2 linked regions of the Homo sapiens genome follow. The protein of the gene in region 1 interacts with the protein of each later gene in a biochemical or structural test. Each region holds a gene or a part of one and is shown in the gene's direction. Other genes may lie near its edges.

Evidence for each region. Proteins that work in one complex are often made in the same cells at the same time.
Region 2: the proteins of GAB1 (region 1) and BTK form a complex in vitro, tested with the Homo sapiens proteins (one large-scale study listed by BioGRID and IntAct).

Annotation. Positions count from the first base shown.
Region 1 is NC_000004.12:143,409,876-143,413,375, forward strand, and holds part of GAB1 (GRB2-associated-binding protein 1), read left to right. Parts: intron 1-3,500. UniProt on the Homo sapiens protein: Adapter protein that plays a role in intracellular signaling cascades triggered by activated receptor-type kinases. Plays a role in FGFR1 signaling. Probably involved in signaling by the epidermal growth factor receptor (EGFR) and the insulin receptor (INSR).
Region 2 is NC_000023.11:101,376,192-101,379,691, reverse strand, and holds part of BTK (tyrosine-protein kinase BTK), read left to right. Parts: intron 1-1,668; exon of another isoform or gene 1,669-1,833; intron 1,834-3,500. UniProt on the Homo sapiens protein: Non-receptor tyrosine kinase indispensable for B lymphocyte development, differentiation and signaling. Binding of antigen to the B-cell antigen receptor (BCR) triggers signaling that ultimately leads to B-cell activation.

The DNA of each region.
Region 1 (3,500 bases):
TTTTGTTTTTGAAATTTTACTTTAAAGAGCAATATAATCCTATTGATTGGATCTATGGTTCTTAATCATGGTGGCACATTAGAATCATCTGTTGAGTGTTTAAACCTGCCTATTCCAATCTTCACCCCACCCCCATACACTACAATTTAGTTGGCTTAAGGTGAAACCCCAAGCTTTTTTTTTTTTTAAGCAAAGCTCTCCGGATATTTCTAATGTGCATTCAGGGCAGAGAACCCATGGACTACCCCCGACCTCTTCTCTGATCTTCTCTCTTGCCTGCCCATATATTGGCCACTTCCTCAATAATTAGCTCTTCCAGTAAAGGTACAGGGAAAAGATGAGGGAATTTTGGCAAGCATCACACCAGGCATGTGAGCTGTCATTTATACCACAGAGAACTCACAAAACAGGGTGTACAGCAGTTACAATGTTTTTCTTTAAAGCTGAAGCCATTTGCTAGTTAGGTTAATTAGGCAAAATTTGTGAATTTGTTAGTAACGTTACAGCCATATAGGCAAAATTTGTGAATTTGTTAGTAATATTACAGCCATTAATGGCTTGGGGTTAATCCAGGTTAAAAAATGTTTCCTTCCCACCAAATAGTGGGACTCCCATCTGTACTTTCTTGCCAGTATGTACATACCCATACTCTAGGGTGTGTGATAAGCCTGCCTTAAGACCTAGCTTCAGTGTGACAGTTCTACAGGTGAGCATATCCAATTTGCTAAATACAGGAAATGTTTAAAAGAATAGTTCTTTTAAAATGATGTTTAAAAACATCTCTCTTATGTCTGTAGAGTTTTAAAAACAAATTAATTTGTTTACACACCTCTATGCTTGCCTGACCAATTCTTGAATGGGCTGGGCAGATCGCAGTTATATCACTATCCCTGCAATGCATAAATAGTATGAGAACTTCTGTATTTTTAATCCTTGCCTCAAACATTTTGTATTGCGTATTTAGCAGACATTGACTGAGCACCTCCTTGGCGCTAGGCAATGGGAAAGGAAAGAAGAAAGGTTAAAATGGCTCCAGCCCTCAGTACATTCAAATGCACAGATGTCAAATGATTTAGGAAAAAGGTGGAAATGGAGAGCTCAGAGCCAACTCGGATGGTGCCCCGAAGAGGGCTGAGCTAAATCTAGGGGGTAGATTTTGTGCCAAGGGGTGAGAGGCAGGACAGAGCAGAGTGTTTGGGAAACTACAAGTATTTCCAATGTGGTTGGAAGGCAGAGGGGCAAGAAGTGACGCTGGAGAGATTTAGGGGTGGAGATGGGGCGGGAGTTGATTGGAGGGTCCTGTGTACCCTGCCAGAGTTTGGGTTTTATCCTGTAGGCACAGGGGGCAGTCACTGAGCATAGGGAATTGGCTTCAGAATTTGGTACTTTTAAGTTACCCCAAAATCCAGACTTAACTGTTGACTTCTTGTTAACAAATTATTTGTTCAACTCAAAATTGGAGTGACTATTGCATATAAGAAATGGCTACAAAATAAGTTTTTACATAGTCCTTCTCAACTATGCAGACATCTTGCAAATTTCAGCTTCTTCATTACCTGCTCGTAATGGAAGTCTAGTCGTTAAAATGATTTTTTGTGTGAATTTCTTTTAAAATTACTTTGAGTATTTGGTTTTGAAGGTTTCTAGAAAGCCTGTCCTTTTTGTCTGCTCCTGCTCTGCAGGATTGGCAAGGCAGTGTACGGCTTTCTCTGGAGCTACCAAGGCAGCAAGGATAAAAATAGGACAAACTTTAAGAATCTCAGATATTTTCAGATAACAAAGACTGATTTATGTGGGCCCGTTTTGTGCTCTGACAAAACATAGAGACGCTTTTGTGCTGTGATTAGCAAGGGTGCTGATGTCAGTTCTCTTGTCGAGCATCAAGCTTTATTCTGTGGCTAAATTGTGCTTTGTACCATAATCCAGAGAACCTTTGTATCTGCCTTATTAAAGTGTGTAGTTTATGTAATTGCTTTTGTTTTCCAGCTTAATCTGTGCCAGATTCAATGAGGGTGACTCATTTTGTGACTGAGACAAACATTCACATTTGGACCATGTTAAAAATAAATAAATAAATGGCAGGTGCTGCTTGGCTAAATTCTGTGTTTTAATGCTGTAATTTCCTGCCGTAAGGGTTCACGTCTTGTATAATGTCTACTCAGCCTCTGTAATCACTAGCCCAATATATCTAATGCACCTCAATTCATTGCTACTCATTTCTTGATTATTTATTTTAGTTCCTAAGGGCTTTTTGAATTGTAACAATGTGATTTCAACAGGGAAGCCAAGGAATGGATGGGGGGGAGCCACAGTTAGCCGGAAAACAAAGAGTGACACATAAGCTGTAGCAAAAGGACATGTTCTGTGCTTTTCTGTTTTTGCCATTTTCCCAAGATGTTTTGTGCATGTGTTTTGGTAAAGTTGTCTTAGTTATGTTTATTTTATTATGTATATGTTCAGTATTGGAGCTCTTTTTCTCAAGTGGAAGATGCTTTGAAAGCACTCTCTTCATTGTGGCCCATGTATCAAATCTAATCTCAAAAATTTTACAAGTCTACTCTCTCAGGAGAATTCTGTTTATTTATTGTACAGATATGCTATGTACTAGGCACTGTGCTATGGCAAATAAAGCAGGCGTGGTCACTATCTTCTTGAACTTTTCAGTCTGTTTGGGGAGTTACGTACTACACAAATAAATACAAAGAAAAATTGAATTGCAAAATTACACAAATCACTACGTAGGTAAGTAATAGGATCTCTAAAACTATGCTATTAGTTTACACTGGAGTTGGTTGCATTGAGGGTGGTCAGGGAAGAGAAGCCCTGAAGGTTGGAGTTGGCCAGGCAAAAAGTGAGGGAAAGAATATAATGTATTTAGGGGAAAACATGTGCAAAGTCCCTGAGGCAGGTAAGAGTTTAGCCTCCTATAAACCCTATTATTGGAGGGGGAAAAGTGACAGTTGATGGAAATTGAGAGAAAAAAGACAGGAAACTGTATTTAAAAGATGAACTATACAAGCATAGCAATATGGTACTATTTATTAATAGTATAGGGGCAAATGACACTCTATACAGTGCAACAGCCTCTGAGAGTCTCCTGAAGTGCAGTATAGAAATGGATGCTTACAATACTTAGTCTGAATCATTGGGGAATGGATTATGTTTGGTGAAGTATGTAGTAAAGCATTTTAGAAAGATTTGCGTGCAAGACAATAAAGTTTTAAAAAGTCATTTCTGTATTTAAAGATGAAGCTTCACTATCTGGAGAAATCACTTACTGAATGATATGATTTCTTGAGGGCCCTGCATAAATAACATCATATTTTATATTCTTTTGCTTTACTTCTGCATTACTTTTTAAAGCTTACTGCTTGAGAGGGAAGTATCCATAGAGGGATAATTTTACTAAGAGATGATATTTATTTATTTTGCAGTAAGTAGATGCATATTCAATGAATGGATTTTTATAGTCCAGAAAACAGTGCTAAAATCATGTGAAT
Region 2 (3,500 bases), on another chromosome or scaffold:
TGGAGAATGACAGGGGCCCCAAGGCAGATGGCATCAACCTCATCAAAGACCAAAAAACAAATAAACGAACAAAAATCCCTCCGGTAGGCAGTGAAACACCACAAAAAAAGCAAGGGCTATAGATGATATACCAAGAGCTACAGATGGATGAGGTTGGACAAGTCACATAACCTCTGTGTCAGTTTCCTCATCTGTTTGTTGTGAGGAATAAATGAAATAATGCCTGTAAAATGCCTGTCAGGTAGAAGTCACTGAAAGGAACAGAAGTTCCATTCCATCCCCCTAAGGAAAGACAGGGAATGGCCAGAATCTTCCTAGCCAATTGAGTAGTGCTTTCAAGGAGAAATCAAGAGAAAACACTACTTCTTGGATATTTTGGCTAAGTAGTCATTTGAAGTACAGTTGACTGGTTATTTTATTTTAAATCATATCTCATAGACTCTTCCCAATCATAGGCTGGCTGTGTAGTTTTCTGAATTTTGCTCTGGTATTCTTCTTCTTTTTTTTTTTTATTTTTATTTTTTATTTTTTTTTTGAGACTCCAGGCTGGAGTGCAGTGTCACGATCTTGGCTCACTGCAACCTCCGCCTCCCGAGTTCAAGCGATTCTCCTGCCTCAGCCTCCTGAGTTGCTGGGACTACAGGCGCCTGTCACCACGCCCGGCTAATTTTTTGTATTTTAATAGAGACGGGATTTCACCATGTTGGCCAGGCTGGTCTCTAACTCCTGACCTCAAGTGATCCGCCAGCCTCAGCCTCCCAAAGTGCTGGGATTACGGGCATGAGCCACTGCGCCTGGACTTATTATTCTTAATAGTATTTTATCTTATGAGCGAAGATAAGAGCCCAAGATGGTTTAGTTTACTGATTCTGCAAGTGCTATTTCTATTAATTCCTTGGCATACTGCAGTTTGTATGATGGCTGCACTCTTGTTAATAAGCTTCGTCTTTCTGAATTCTGTTGCTCCATAGGGAGCTGGGAGGCTGCAAAAGGTGGCCCTGTAAAAATCTTTGCATTTATAATTTAATAAAGGGGACATTGTAACACTGGAACTCCATATTTTAAATGAAGAGCTCTGTGTCTATTTTTTCTCCTCCCCCATTTCTTTCTTTCTATAAACAACAGTGGTGTGTGTGTGTGTGTGTGTGTGTGTGTGTGTGTGTCTGTATGTTTGAGACATTCAAGTCACTTCCATTTCCACCCTTCACCCTGAGTGGAGCTCAGGGTTAGCCATCATTGTGCATATTTTGTGGTCAAACCGACTCTGTAGGCTACTGAAATTGTTTTAAAAAAATTGGGGCCTTTACTGGCCAGGCACGGTGGCTCATACCTGTAATTCCAGCACTTTGGGAGGCCAAGGTAGGCAGGTCACCTGAGGTCAGGAGTTCAAGACCAGCCTGGCCAACATGGGGAAACCCCACCTCTACTAAAAATACAAAAATTAGCCAGGTGTGGTGGCACACGCCTGTAATCCCGGCTACTTGGGAGGCCGAGGCAGGAGAATTGCTTGAACCCAGGAGATGGAGGTTGCAGTGAGCCAAGATCGTGCCACTGCACTCCAGCCTGGGCAACAAAGCAAGATTCCGTCTCAAAAAAAAAAAAAAAAAATGGGGCCTTTCACAATAAGTACCCACAGAAGCTTTACCCTCTAACTACTTTTTAACTCAGAGCTGTGTGTTACACACCAACCTTCTGGAGGACTCAAAAATGGATCCCTTTCCTTTCACATTATTGAGTGATGGACCAGTGGCACCTAAGGAAGAGCTACCACATTTTCAGGCTGTGTGAGTCTGGACTGGATCATAAGAAACAGGAGAAAAGCAGTCAAAGAAGGTGGTACCAAATCATGGCAATTCTGGTAGACCTCTAGCTCAATGATCTAGAGGTGGAGGCCATTTCACCTTTTGCTCAGAGGGGCGATGGCTAGTGAGAGACTTGCTTACTTCCTCATAGTCAGAGCAGCACTAAACCCTGCCCAAACACAGATACTTGAGAGAGAGGAAGACTTCCTCTTGTACAAACTGGATTTGTTCTAAAACAGAGAAAGAGTAGAGGCAGCTTCCAGAAGGACCTGTCTTATAGGAAGTAAGAGCAGGGGACAAGAATGAAACAGATGGTGGGTCTAAGCAGGGAATGTATCCACCAAGAGCCTGCAACAAAACTAAAGATAAAATGTTGCCTGCGATTTATTCGGCTAAGAGAAGTACACCAGACATGGTTTGTTGGGATGCTTCTGACCCCATTTACTGGTCACAGTACTCAATTTATTTAGGGTTTTATTTTTTATCCTGTAATTTGAGTCTTTGATTGTGAAGAGGTACTTAATTATAATTTGCCACAAGAATAATTGTGGTATGATTACAGGGCTCTCAATGAGTTGGTAGTTCCTGAGAATAGAGTAGTATTATTTGGTTACCACTACTCCTGAGTAAATGCATAATTGTAATGTTAAAATGAACCTCTTTGAGTTTAGAGCTAAAACTGAGTGTTGGGAAGGGCTGATTGTAAACTCATCAATTTGTCACTCCAGTGAGAGACCATTTAAACCAGGGAGTCAGGGTGTGTGGCAGGGTGGAGGGAAAGGTTTGCACTCTTGCCCAATTTTTCTCAAAATCTAATTTACAAAATATTGAATTAATCCACCTCCAGAAGATAGTGGCATACACATGGTAGATAAGTGGCAAAGCGATCTTCCAGAACACCCCTGGTGTTCCTTTGACGTATTTTCGTCTCCCCAGCATGAGAATAGAACCTCCTACACCACAGGAAAGAGCAAAATAACAGTGTGGATAGCCCCCAGGCTTTGATAAAATTCACTCCCTTGCTTTCCTAGTGTGAGCAATAATCTGCTTAAAAAGTAGAAAAAAACTGCTGGCTTTATTCATTCTGCTTCCACGGTGCCACCAAAAGCATAAGGAGTTTACTTAAAAAATAGACACATTCCCACCCCCACCCCCCCACCAGAGGAAAAATCCCTACCACTAATTAAACTTGAATGGAGGGCTGGTGGTTTTTTCGTTACTTACTTAGTGTTTTTTTGTTGTTGTTTTTGATTTTGTTTTTTGAGACGGAGTTTCGCTCTTGTTGCCCCGACTGGAGTATAATGGCACAATCTCGGCTCACTGCAACCTCCGCCTCCTGGGTTCAAGCGATTCTCCTGCCTCAGCCTCCCGAGTAGCTGGGATTACAGGCATCCACCACTACGCCCGGCTATTTTTGTATTTTTAGTAGAGACGGGGTTTTGCCATGTTGGCCAGGTTGGTCTTGAACTGTTGACCTCAGGTGATCCGCCAGCCTCGGCCTCCCAAAGTGCTGGGATTACAGATGTGAGCCACCGCGCCGGCCTAGTGTTCTATTTTTATGACAGCATTTGTTTTCACTTTATCTTTCCAATGAAAGTTCGGAATTAGTAATAATATTACACTGTGCATAAACTGTAAGTGAATAACTGATATGAAGTGTTGCTTGGTGTGAATAAAAAAGCCAGTGGTGACTTTGGG